Homo sapiens: one gene and its partner. The protein of the gene in region 1 interacts with the protein of each later gene in a pairwise test. Each region holds a gene or a part of one and is shown in the gene's direction. Other genes may lie near its edges.

What was found. The genes of interacting proteins can lie anywhere in the genome.
Region 2: the proteins of ADORA2A (region 1) and CD4 come close enough for resonance energy transfer, tested with the Homo sapiens proteins (one study listed by BioGRID).

What each region holds. Positions count from the first base shown.
Region 1 is NC_000022.11:24,437,588-24,442,884, forward strand, and holds the end of ADORA2A (adenosine receptor A2a), read left to right. Parts: intron 1-689; exon of another isoform or gene 690-1,171; intron 1,172-1,706; exon of another isoform or gene 1,707-1,980; intron 1,981-2,995; coding exon 2,996-3,902; 3' UTR 3,903-4,770; downstream 4,771-5,297. UniProt on the Homo sapiens protein: Receptor for adenosine. The activity of this receptor is mediated by G proteins which activate adenylyl cyclase.
Region 2 is NC_000012.12:6,799,510-6,806,547, forward strand, and holds part of CD4 (T-cell surface glycoprotein CD4 isoform 1 precursor), read left to right. Parts: intron 1-28; exon of another isoform or gene 29-114; intron 115-562; 5' UTR 563-629; coding exon 630-678; intron 679-797; coding exon 798-962; intron 963-7,038. UniProt on the Homo sapiens protein: Integral membrane glycoprotein that plays an essential role in the immune response and serves multiple functions in responses against both external and internal offenses.

The sequences.
Region 1 (5,297 bases):
CAAAAGAGTATAGTATAGTAGAAAGTTGTCCTCCATACCCCCTGTCCCCCACCCTCAGTTCCCTGCCTGCAAGGCCATGTTAAGAATCCTTCCAGAGATATTCTTTGCATATATAAGCAAGTGCTATTAATGTATGTTTTGTTTCTGTCCCCACACGGGACTTTCTTTGCAGAGTACGGTGGAAGACTCCCCTTGTGGGTTCCCTTTTCTGTACAAGTCAACAATTGGACAGACCAGGGATTTCCATACTGTGTTCCCAGAAGCCTTCGGGTTGGCTCTGGTGTCCCCACCAATTCACTGATTCAATAAACATTTAATAAGCCCCTTCCCTTCCCCAGCAGCTTCACCTCTGTGACTGCCTGGGAATGTGGGCGACAAGGTTTGCTGCTGAGAACAGTTTGAAAACCAGCAAAGCAGGTGGCCCAGGGCCCAGGCAGCTCTGCAACACCCCTGTGGCTGCTTGGCTCTGCTCTGTTGCCTCAAATGACAGGAAACTCACTATTGCCTGAGGCAGGCCATCTCTCCTGTGAACAGCTCAGCTGAAAAACTCTTAACCTACCCTGAGTTACAATCTGCCTCCCTATAATTTCCACCCACTGATTCTCCATTCTGCCCTTAGAGGGCAGAGTGCTGACAGGTCCACGACTTGGTCCCATTTTACAAATGAAGAAACTGAGGCTCAGAGAGACAAAGTTTTAAAACATTCCTGTTAACAGGGCCAGAACCCAGGAAGGGATATGCTTTTCTCAGGAATAATGTCAAAATTAATATAGCTTCCCAGTCAATGAGGACTATATAAATTACTATTTGCAAAGCACTAAGAACAGTGTCCGGCACAGAGTCAGTGCTATGTAATGTAGATGTGAGAATGAGAGAGCCTGAGATTTTATGTTTGCGAGTCCCACAGGAGGCAGGGCAATGCCAACTCCCTGTTGCTTGGAAGCAATGGGCAAGTCTATGACCCTCCTGTTGAGGCCCTGTTACAGGTAACCAAGCCCCCACGGAATGGAGCTGAGGAGCTCCTGAGAATGGGCTTGTCCGGTTACTGTTTGGATTCAGAACTGACCTAAGAGATTCAGAACAGACAGACTCGCCTTGGCCTGAGTTGCCTCTGGGCTCTTGGAATGTCCACAGCAAGTCCATTCCTCTCCTTGGGCCTCAATTTACCCACCTGTAAAACAAGAGGATTGGACCACATAAGAGATCGGAAGCCACCAGGGTTTCTCTTTTTCTCTTTTATTTGAATTAGTTGACAAAACTTAAATCTTGGGAGATTTTACCCAGAAAATCATCTCCCCAGCCCCACCTGAGATCTGGTAATAGCAGGCGTACGTTTTGCATGGCGCTGAAGACCAGGTAAACGCCCCACCAGCTGCCTCCTGTGTGTGCTACCTATAGGCGCCTGTTTGCTACCCGTGAATGAGATGGTTTCTGTGGATGTTCCCAGCTCCGCAGTTAAGTAGAGCACATCCTTCCCCTTGCACCTTTTTTTTTTTTTTTTTTTTTTTTTTTTTGGAGACTGAGTCTTGCTCTGTCTCCCAGGCTGGAGTGCAGTGGCGCGATCTTGGCTCACTGCAAGCTCTGCCTCCTGGGTTCACACCATTCTCCTGCCTGTCTCCCAAGTAGCTGGGATTACAGGCCCCCGCCACCACGGCCGGCTAGTTTTTTTTATTTTTAGTAGAGACAAGGTTTCTCCATCTCCTGACCTCGTGATCCGCCTGCCTCGGCCTCCCAAAGTGCTGGGATTACAGGTGTGAGCCACTGCGCCCGGCCTCCTTGCACCTTCTGAGTGTCCCTGTCTCGGAGCTGGCAATGCAGAGATGGATGTAGGAAAGCCCTGCCCCCGAGGGGCCCAGATGTGGTGGGGATCTGCTGCACTTCGGTAGGAAACTTCTTTGAGATCTCTATCCTGGACTTGAAGGATGGGTAGGGTTTCTGCCAGGTAGAGGGGAGTGTAGTCTGGTCTTGCCAGAATCAAAACTGTTAAACAGAAGTCATCCCTCAGTGATCATCAAGGTTGCCTTCCTAAATTAGGGAGACTTTTTTTTTTTATTGTCCATTCTTTCATGAAATCTAGGCCACCTTTCCTACAGGGCTGAGGTCTGCTTACTGGCTGGCAGATCCAGCCATTTCCCGAGTATGAGACTGGGAGTCGGTAGGCTTGGATTTCTGTCTGGCTCTCACTCAGGAAGACTGAGTGATTTCGGGCAGATTACTGTCCCCCTGGACCTCAGTATTTCCTTGCAAATGTTAAGATGGCCATGTAAATGTTAACAAGTAATTCTCTCATTTCTCTCCAGAGGGCTGTGGGTGGGTTTGGAGGGGAGAAATGGCATCTCCTTTGGCCTGGGACCTCCTCCCCTCTTTTACCCTCCATGCTGCCTCTCCTCAAGGGCTTCTGGAGTCCCCAAGTCAAATGGCAAATGGGGAAGAGAAGACAGGGTATGGAGTACAAGAGGCCTAGATCCTCTATAGGTCTGATCTGGCTGGTGCTGCCCCTAGCCAGTAAAGCCACCCTCCAGACCCCTTCAAGCCTGTTGTAGCCTTAACCAAGATCAACCAACATGGAGGTGACTGATCTTGGTTAAGGCTGCGACCAACATGGAGGTAATTGATCTTGGTTAAGGCTACGACACGTTTCCCTTTAGAGAAAAATCATGTTTTCCCCCTCAAAAAATCATGCGTTAATTTCCTCCAACCAAACTAAGTCCCAGGACTACTCCGAAAACTACTCAATGACCATCTGGGCATTTGTACATGGGTTTCCATTTCTTGGATGCCTGCTCTCCTGTTACCTCCCAGAAGCCTGTGAAAAAGGCAAGGCATATTACTTCCACTTAACGGAAGAGGATGCTGGGGCGAGGTGGCAGGAAATGACTGGTCCAAGACCTTACAGTCAGGAAATGTGGAAACGGGTGCTGCTCTGGGGTTCTGAACTCTTGGCCCTGCTTAACCCTGGCTTCTCAGATCTCTGATGCTGGTCTCTTCTCCCCAGGTACAATGGCTTGGTGACCGGCACGAGGGCTAAGGGCATCATTGCCATCTGCTGGGTGCTGTCGTTTGCCATCGGCCTGACTCCCATGCTAGGTTGGAACAACTGCGGTCAGCCAAAGGAGGGCAAGAACCACTCCCAGGGCTGCGGGGAGGGCCAAGTGGCCTGTCTCTTTGAGGATGTGGTCCCCATGAACTACATGGTGTACTTCAACTTCTTTGCCTGTGTGCTGGTGCCCCTGCTGCTCATGCTGGGTGTCTATTTGCGGATCTTCCTGGCGGCGCGACGACAGCTGAAGCAGATGGAGAGCCAGCCTCTGCCGGGGGAGCGGGCACGGTCCACACTGCAGAAGGAGGTCCATGCTGCCAAGTCACTGGCCATCATTGTGGGGCTCTTTGCCCTCTGCTGGCTGCCCCTACACATCATCAACTGCTTCACTTTCTTCTGCCCCGACTGCAGCCACGCCCCTCTCTGGCTCATGTACCTGGCCATCGTCCTCTCCCACACCAATTCGGTTGTGAATCCCTTCATCTACGCCTACCGTATCCGCGAGTTCCGCCAGACCTTCCGCAAGATCATTCGCAGCCACGTCCTGAGGCAGCAAGAACCTTTCAAGGCAGCTGGCACCAGTGCCCGGGTCTTGGCAGCTCATGGCAGTGACGGAGAGCAGGTCAGCCTCCGTCTCAACGGCCACCCGCCAGGAGTGTGGGCCAACGGCAGTGCTCCCCACCCTGAGCGGAGGCCCAATGGCTATGCCCTGGGGCTGGTGAGTGGAGGGAGTGCCCAAGAGTCCCAGGGGAACACGGGCCTCCCAGACGTGGAGCTCCTTAGCCATGAGCTCAAGGGAGTGTGCCCAGAGCCCCCTGGCCTAGATGACCCCCTGGCCCAGGATGGAGCAGGAGTGTCCTGATGATTCATGGAGTTTGCCCCTTCCTAAGGGAAGGAGATCTTTATCTTTCTGGTTGGCTTGACCAGTCACGTTGGGAGAAGAGAGAGAGTGCCAGGAGACCCTGAGGGCAGCCGGTTCCTACTTTGGACTGAGAGAAGGGAGCCCCAGGCTGGAGCAGCATGAGGCCCAGCAAGAAGGGCTTGGGTTCTGAGGAAGCAGATGTTTCATGCTGTGAGGCCTTGCACCAGGTGGGGGCCACAGCACCAGCAGCATCTTTGCTGGGCAGGGCCCAGCCCTCCACTGCAGAAGCATCTGGAAGCACCACCTTGTCTCCACAGAGCAGCTTGGGCACAGCAGACTGGCCTGGCCCTGAGACTGGGGAGTGGCTCCAACAGCCTCCTGCCACCCACACACCACTCTCCCTAGACTCTCCTAGGGTTCAGGAGCTGCTGGGCCCAGAGGTGACATTTGACTTTTTTCCAGGAAAAATGTAAGTGTGAGGAAACCCTTTTTATTTTATTACCTTTCACTCTCTGGCTGCTGGGTCTGCCGTCGGTCCTGCTGCTAACCTGGCACCAGAGCCTCTGCCCGGGGAGCCTCAGGCAGTCCTCTCCTGCTGTCACAGCTGCCATCCACTTCTCAGTCCCAGGGCCATCTCTTGGAGTGACAAAGCTGGGATCAAGGACAGGGAGTTGTAACAGAGCAGTGCCAGAGCATGGGCCCAGGTCCCAGGGGAGAGGTTGGGGCTGGCAGGCCACTGGCATGTGCTGAGTAGCGCAGAGCTACCCAGTGAGAGGCCTTGTCTAACTGCCTTTCCTTCTAAAGGGAATGTTTTTTTCTGAGATAAAATAAAAACGAGCCACATCGTGTTTTAAGCTTGTCCAAATGAGAATGGCGTCTGAGTTCGTTTCCTACTCCATAGCTAGGCCTGTGCACACATACAGGCATGTGTTGTGTATGAGAGAGTGTGTGCGTATGTGCAGACACCCTGCCTGCCCCGGGGGCCCTCCCCAGGGTCCTGTCCTCGAGGGGACAGGCTGCCTGGCTGCACCACAATCCAACCTGCATTTCTATGAGGGCCCACAGGGGCTATGGGAGAAGGGGCTTTCCCCAGCAACTCCCCCCCTCCTTATCTTCCTACATCTTTAAGGGAAGATCTCTTTGTATGTTACCTTCTCAGAACTGTGACCCGCCACCTGCCCTGCTGCACCCTTTAGCAGAGGTCACAGAGGTATCCGCAAACAGATCTGGGCAGGGGCTACACGGCCTTCCCCTAGAATCCCCCTCCTTCTGTTCTTAACAAAAGAAACCCAGAAGGAAGGGGTGTTTTTGCTCTGACCCCGGCCTTAGGGGCCTCCTGCCTGAGGAGGTGGTGCCATCTTTCTGTGATGGCGAAGTTTGAGGCCTGGAAGGCAG
Region 2 (7,038 bases), on another chromosome or scaffold:
TGTAGTACATGTGCATCTTTTTTTGCAGTGGTGCAATCTTGGCTCACTGCAACCTCCTCCTCCCTGGTTCAAGTGATTCTCCTGCCTCAGCTTCCTAAGCACCTGAGACTACAGGTGCATGCCACCACGCCCGGCTAATTTTTGTATTTTTAGTAGAGATGGGGTTTCACCATGTTGGCCAGGCTGATCTCGAACTCCTGACCGCAAGTGATCCACCCACCTCGGCCTCCCAAAGCACTGGGATTACAGGCATGAGCCACCGCACCCAGCCTAGTATATGCCCATCTCTTAGGAGCTGCTCCTAACTGGTTTGGTTTGGATCTAGCCAGCCATGGGGCTCCTTATTCACTTATTTATCTTCTGTTTTTGCTCACCTGCCTCTTTCTCTTGCTTCTGCTCCTACTCATTCCTTCCTTAATCCAACCTCCAATTCCCTCTGCTATTCTCCTGCCTCAAGTTCACTAGGCTGGCTGCAAGGGTCCTGAGGGAGAGGTTGTGTATCGCCCCTGTATACTCCAGGTCCAGTAAATGTTTGCTGACTAATGATTGGCATTTCCCTCAGGCCCTGCCATTTCTGTGGGCTCAGGTCCCTACTGGCTCAGGCCCCTGCCTCCCTCGGCAAGGCCACAATGAACCGGGGAGTCCCTTTTAGGCACTTGCTTCTGGTGCTGCAACTGGGTAAGTTCTCAGACCTGGGGTCTCAATGCAGATGACGTGGGAGGAAAGGCAAAGGTGGAGGATGGGGTAGAGGGGGACAGCGGCGACATTGAGACCTGACTCCTTTCTTTTCCACTTAGCGCTCCTCCCAGCAGCCACTCAGGGAAAGAAAGTGGTGCTGGGCAAAAAAGGGGATACAGTGGAACTGACCTGTACAGCTTCCCAGAAGAAGAGCATACAATTCCACTGGAAAAACTCCAACCAGATAAAGATTCTGGGAAATCAGGGCTCCTTCTTAACTAAAGGTAGGGTTGCCTGGCTCCCCATCCAGGGAGGAAAACACACTATGGAGTGAAAGCCTTTGGTGTCTGAGATCTGGTCTTAGTTAAACTCTGGGATCCCAGAGGGCTTGGGTTGACAGAAACTCAGTGGCATTCTTATCCAGAGTTTCTCTACACCAACTGCTGGTGGCCCAGGGAAAGGTGGTATGTGAATTTCAATATTTTAATATTTAATATTCATGAACTTATTTTAGTGAGTTTTAGAACAATCACTATCACTTAAAACCCGTGATTTCTTGAGTATTGTTGCTACAGACCTATGTAGATAATACTTTGCACAGTGACTCATATGTATAATCCTAGCACTGTGGGAGGCTGAGGCCGGAGGATTGCTTGAGTCCAGGAGTTCAAGACCAGCCTGAACAACATAGTGAGACTCTGTCTCTATGAAAAAAAATATATATATATTTTTTTTGGAGACAAGGTCTAGTTCTATCACCCAGGCTCCAGTGCAGTGGTGTGATCTCGGCTCACTGCAATCTCCACCTCCCAGGCTCAAGTCATCATCCCACCTCAGCCTCCCAAGTAGCTGGGACTACAGGCATGCACCACCATGCCAGGCTAATTTTTGTATTTTTTATAGAGACAGGGTTTCACCATGTTGGCCAGGCTGGTCTCGAACTCATGAGCTCAAGTGATCCACTCACCTTGGCCTCTCAGAGTGCTGGAATTACAGGTGTGTGTCACTATGCCTAGCCAAAAAAAATTTTTTTAATTAAAAAAAAAAAGGCCGGCTGTAGTGGCTCACACCTGTAATCCAGAACTTTGGGAGTTTGAGGTGGGCAGATCACCGGNGGTCAGGAGTTCAAGACCAGTCTGGCCAACATGGTGAAACCCGGTCTCTACTAAAAATACAAAAATTAGCCAGGTGTGGGGGTGCAGTCCTGTACTTCCAGCTACTCAGGAGGCTGAGGCAGGAGACTCGCTTGAACCTGGGAGGCAAAGGCTGCAGTGAGCTGAGATTGCACCACTGCACTCCAGCCTGGGTGACAGAGCAAGACTTCATCTCAAAAAAAAAAAAAAAGCTGCANATTTATTATTATTATTATTAGTTTATTTATTTATTTTTTTGAGACAGAGTCTCGTTCTGTCGCCCAGGCTGGAGTGCGGTGGCGTGATCTTGGCTCATTGCAACCTCCACCTCCCGGGTTCAAGTGATTCTCCTGCCTCAGCCTCCCGAGTAGCTGGGACTACAGGCGTATGCCACCATGCCTGGCTAATTTTTTGTACTTTTAGTAGAGACAGAGTTTCACGGTGTTAGCCAGGCTGGTCTTGATCTCCTGACCTCGTGATTTACCCTCCTTGGCCTCCCAAAGTGCTGGGATTACAGGCGTGAGTCACTGTGCCCGGCCCAGAATCATTTTTTTCTACTTTTTTTTTTTTGAGGCAAACTCTCGATCTGTTGCCCAGGCTGGAGTGCAGTGGGCATGATCTTGGCTCACTGCAAGCTCTGCCTCCCAGGTTCAAGCAATTCTCCTGCCTCAGCCTCCTGAGTAGCTGGGACTACAGGCGTGTGCCACCATGCCCGGCTAATTTGCGTATTTTTAGTAGAGACCGGTTTTCATCATATTGGCCAGGCTGGTCTTGAACTCCTGACCTCAAGTGATTCTCCCACCTTAGCCTCCCAAAGTGCTGGGATTACAGGCATGAGCTACTGCACTTGGCCTTTTCTCCTGGTTTTAAAACTATTATATGCTCATTACAAAATATTTGGTCAATGAAGAAAAGAATATGGAAGAAAATCAAATGCATGCATACTTCTATCACTCAGAGATATCCTCTGCTAACATTTTGATTGATTTTCTTCCAATCTTTTTTTTTTTTTTTCTTTTTGAGACAGGGTCTCACTCTGCTGCCCAGGCTGGAGTACAGTGGCATGACCACAACACATCACAGCCTCAAGTGATCTTCCCACTTCAGCCTTCCCAGTAGCTGGGACTACAGGTGCACGCCACCATGTTCACCTAATTTTTTACTTTTTGTAGAGATGAGACTTCACCATGTTGCTCAGGCTGGTCTTGAATTCCTAGGCTCAAGTGATCTTCCCGCTTTGGCCTCCCAAAGTGCTGGGATTATAGGTATGAGCCACTGCATGTGGCCTATTTTCTTCCACTGTTGTTCGGCGTGGAGAATATTATATACATAATTACGTAAATGATATCATACTGTATATACCTTTTTTCCTACTCCTTCCTTAAGTTATATCATAATGAGACTACCAATTATTAGACTTTTTTTCTTTTTTTTGAGACGGAGTCTCGGTCTGTCACCTAGGCTGGAGTGCAATGGCGCGATCTCAGCTCGCTGCAACCTCTGCCTCCCAGGTTCAAGCAATTCTGCCTCAGCCTCCCGAGTAGCTGGGACTACAGACACGTGCCACCATGCCCAGCTAACTTTTTTATTTTTTTATTAGAGACAGGGTTCCACCATGCTAGCAGGATGGTCTCAATCTCTCGACTTCGTGATCAGCCCGGCTTGGCCTCCCAAAGTGCTGGGAGTACAGGTGTGAGCCACCGCACTCGGCCTAGACTAACTATTTAAAGTAATCTGGCAATGTTTAACGAATACAAAACTCTAAAACCCTTGGACCTAATAATAGCTATTTTGGAAAGTCTACTTGACAGAAATAAAATTGTGAATATTCTTTTTTGTTGTTTTTTTGAGACAGAGTCTCATTTGGACGCCTAGGCTGGAGTGCAGTGGCATGATCTCGGCTAACTGCAACCTCCACCTCCTGGGTTCAAGTGATTCTCCTGCCTCAGCCTCCTGAGCAGCTGGGATTACAGGTGTGCACCACCATGTCTGGCTAATTTTTGCATTTTTAGTAGATGGGGTTTCACCATGTTGACCAGGGTGGTCTGGAACTTCTACCCTCAAGTGATCTACCCACCTTGGCCTCCCAAAGTGCTGGGATTACAGGTGTGAGCCACCACGCCTGACCAGTGAACACTTAATAATATCTATGGAAAGGTGTTATTATAAGAATTGCTTGTGGGGCCGGGCGTGGTGGCTCACGCCTGTAATCCCAGCACTTTGGGAGGCTGTGGCAGGCGGATCACGAGGTCAGGAGATCAAGATCATCCTGGCTAACACGGTGAAACCCCGTCTCTACTAAAAATACCAAAAAATTAGCCAGGCGTGGTGGCGGGCACTTGTAATCCCAGCTATCCAGGAGGCTGAGGCAGGAGAATTGCGTGAACCCAGGAGGCGGAGGTCGCAGTGAGCTGAGACCGTGCCATTGCACTCCAGCCTGAGTGACAGAGTGAGACTCCATCACAAAAAATAAATAAATAAATAAATAAAATATAAATAAGTAAATAAAGGTCAGGAGTGGTGGCTCACGCCTGTAATCCCAGCACTTTGGGAGGCCGAGGTGGACAGATCATGAGGTCATGAGATCAAGACCATCCTGGCTAACACAGTGAAACCCTGCCTCTACTAAAAATACAAAAAGTCATCCAGGTGTGGTGGCACACACCTATAGTCCCAGCTACTTGGGAGGCTGAGGCAGGAGAATCACTTGAACCCAGGAGGCAGAGGTTGCAGTGAGCTGAGATCGCGCCACTACACTCCAGCCTAGGCGACAGAGCAAGACTCTGTCTCAAAATAAATAAATAAATAAATAAATAAATAAATAAATAAATAAAATAAAAAGCACACACACACACACACACACACACACACAATGCAAAAGACCCACCCTACTACAACTAACATTATATTTAATGGTGAAAAACTGAATTCTTTCTCCCTAAGTGCAGGAATAAGACAAAGATGTCTGCTCTTACTACTCTTATTCAACATAATACTGCAATCCCTTGCCAGTGCAATAAGGCAAGAAAAATGAAATAAAAGGAAAACTGATCAGAAAGAAAGAAATAAAACTGTTCCTATTTGTGGATGACATGATTACATAGAAAATCTCAAAGAATCTGTAAGAAACTTCTTAGAATTAATAAATGAATTCATCAAGGTTGCAGAATATAAGATAAACATAAAAAATCTATTGTATTTCTATATATTAGCAAGGAACATGTGTACACAGAAATTAAAACTACAATACCATTTATAATTGCTCAAAAAGGCCAGGCATGGTGGCTCACACCTGTAATTCCTGCACTTTGGGAGGCCAAGGTGGGAAGATTGCTTAAGCCCAGGAGTTCAAGACCAGCCCGGGCAACATAGTGAGACCTTGTCTCTACAAAAAGTAAAAAATTAGCTGAGCATGGCCGGGTGCAGTGGCTCACTCCTGTAACCCCAACACTTTGGGAGGCTGAGGCGGGCGGATCATGAGGTCAGGAGATCGAGACCATCCTGGCTAACACGGTGAAACCCTGTCTCTACTAAAAACACAAAAAATTAGCTGGATGTGGTGGCAGGCGCCTGTAGACCCAGCTACTCGGGAAGCTGAGGCAGGAGAATGGCGTGAACCTGGGAGGCGGAGCTTGCAGTGAGCTGAGATTGTGCCACTGCACTCCAGCCTGGGTGACACAGTGAGACTACGTCTCAAAAAAAAAAAAAAAAAAATTAGCTGAGCATTATGGTGTATGCCTGTAGTCCCAGCTACTGGGGAGGCTGAGGTGGGAGGATTGCTTGAGCCCTAGGAGGGCAAGGCTGCAGTGAGCCATGATCACACCACTGCTTTCCAGCCTCGGTAGGAGAGCAAGACCCTATCTCAAAAAAAAAAAAAAAAAAAAAAGAAAAGAAAAGAAAAGAAAAGAAAAAGAAAGAGAGAAAGAAATACTTAGGTGTAAATCTAAAAAACATGCGTAGGGCCAGGTGCAGTGGCTCATGCCTGTAATCCCAGCACTTTGGGAAGTTGAGGCTGGCGGATCACTTGAAGTCGGGAGTTTGAGACCAGCCTGGCCAACATGGTGAAACCCCGTCTCTACTAAAAATGCAAAAATTAGGCAGGTGTTGTGGCGCATGCCTGATCCCAGCTACTTTGGAGGCTGAGGCAGGAGAATTGCTTCAACCCGGGAGGCAGAGGTTGCAGTGAGCCAAGACTGTTCCACTGCACTCCAGCCTGGGCAACAGAGTAAGAGTCTGTCTCCCGAAAAAAAAAAAAAGAAAAAAGAAAGCATTGAATTGTATGCTAAAAACTACACGATGCTGATTAAAGAAGTCAAAGAAGATCTAAATATATGGAGAGACATGCTGTACTCATGGATTGATGGATTGGAAGACTCAACATAAGAAAGATATCAATTTTCCCCAAATTAATATACAAGTTTAATCCAATTCCTATAAAAATACCAGCAAGATTTTTTGTAGATATAAACAAGTTGGCCAGGTGTAGTGGCTTACACCTGTAATCCTAGCACTTTGGGAGGCTGAGGTGGGAAGATCGCTTGAGCCCAGGTGTTCACGACTGCAGTGAGCTATGATTGTGTCACTGCATTCCAGCTGGCACTCCAGCCTAAGTGACAAAGGGAGACCCTGTCTCAAAAACAAAAACAAAACCAAAATAATTTTGCTCTGCAAAATCCCTATTAAGAAGAAGAAAAGAGGCTGGGCACAGTGGCTCACCGCTGTAATCCCAGCACGTTGGGAGGCTGAGGCAGGCTGATCACTTCAGCCCAGAAGTTTGAGATCAGCCTGGGCAACATGAGGAAACCCCGTCTCTACCAAAAAAAAAAAAAGGTACATACACACACACACACACACACACACACATACACAAGTATATACACATATATATACACATACAGGTGAATAGATGTATATACATCTATTTATTGTGAATATACATCTATACACACACGTGTGTGTACACATATATTTAAAATTTATTTTTATTTATTTATTTATTTTTGAGACAGAGTCTTGCTCTGTCACCCAGGCTGGGTGCACCTGTATTCCCAACGACACAGGAGGCTGAGGTGGGAGAATCACTGAGCCAGGGAGGCAGAGGTTGCAGTGAGCCAAGATGTTGCCTGGTTGCCTGGGCAACAGAGCGAGACCCTATATCAAAAAAGAAGAATAATAAGAAAAGACAGTTTACAGAATATAAGAAAATATATTCACAATCCACATACTT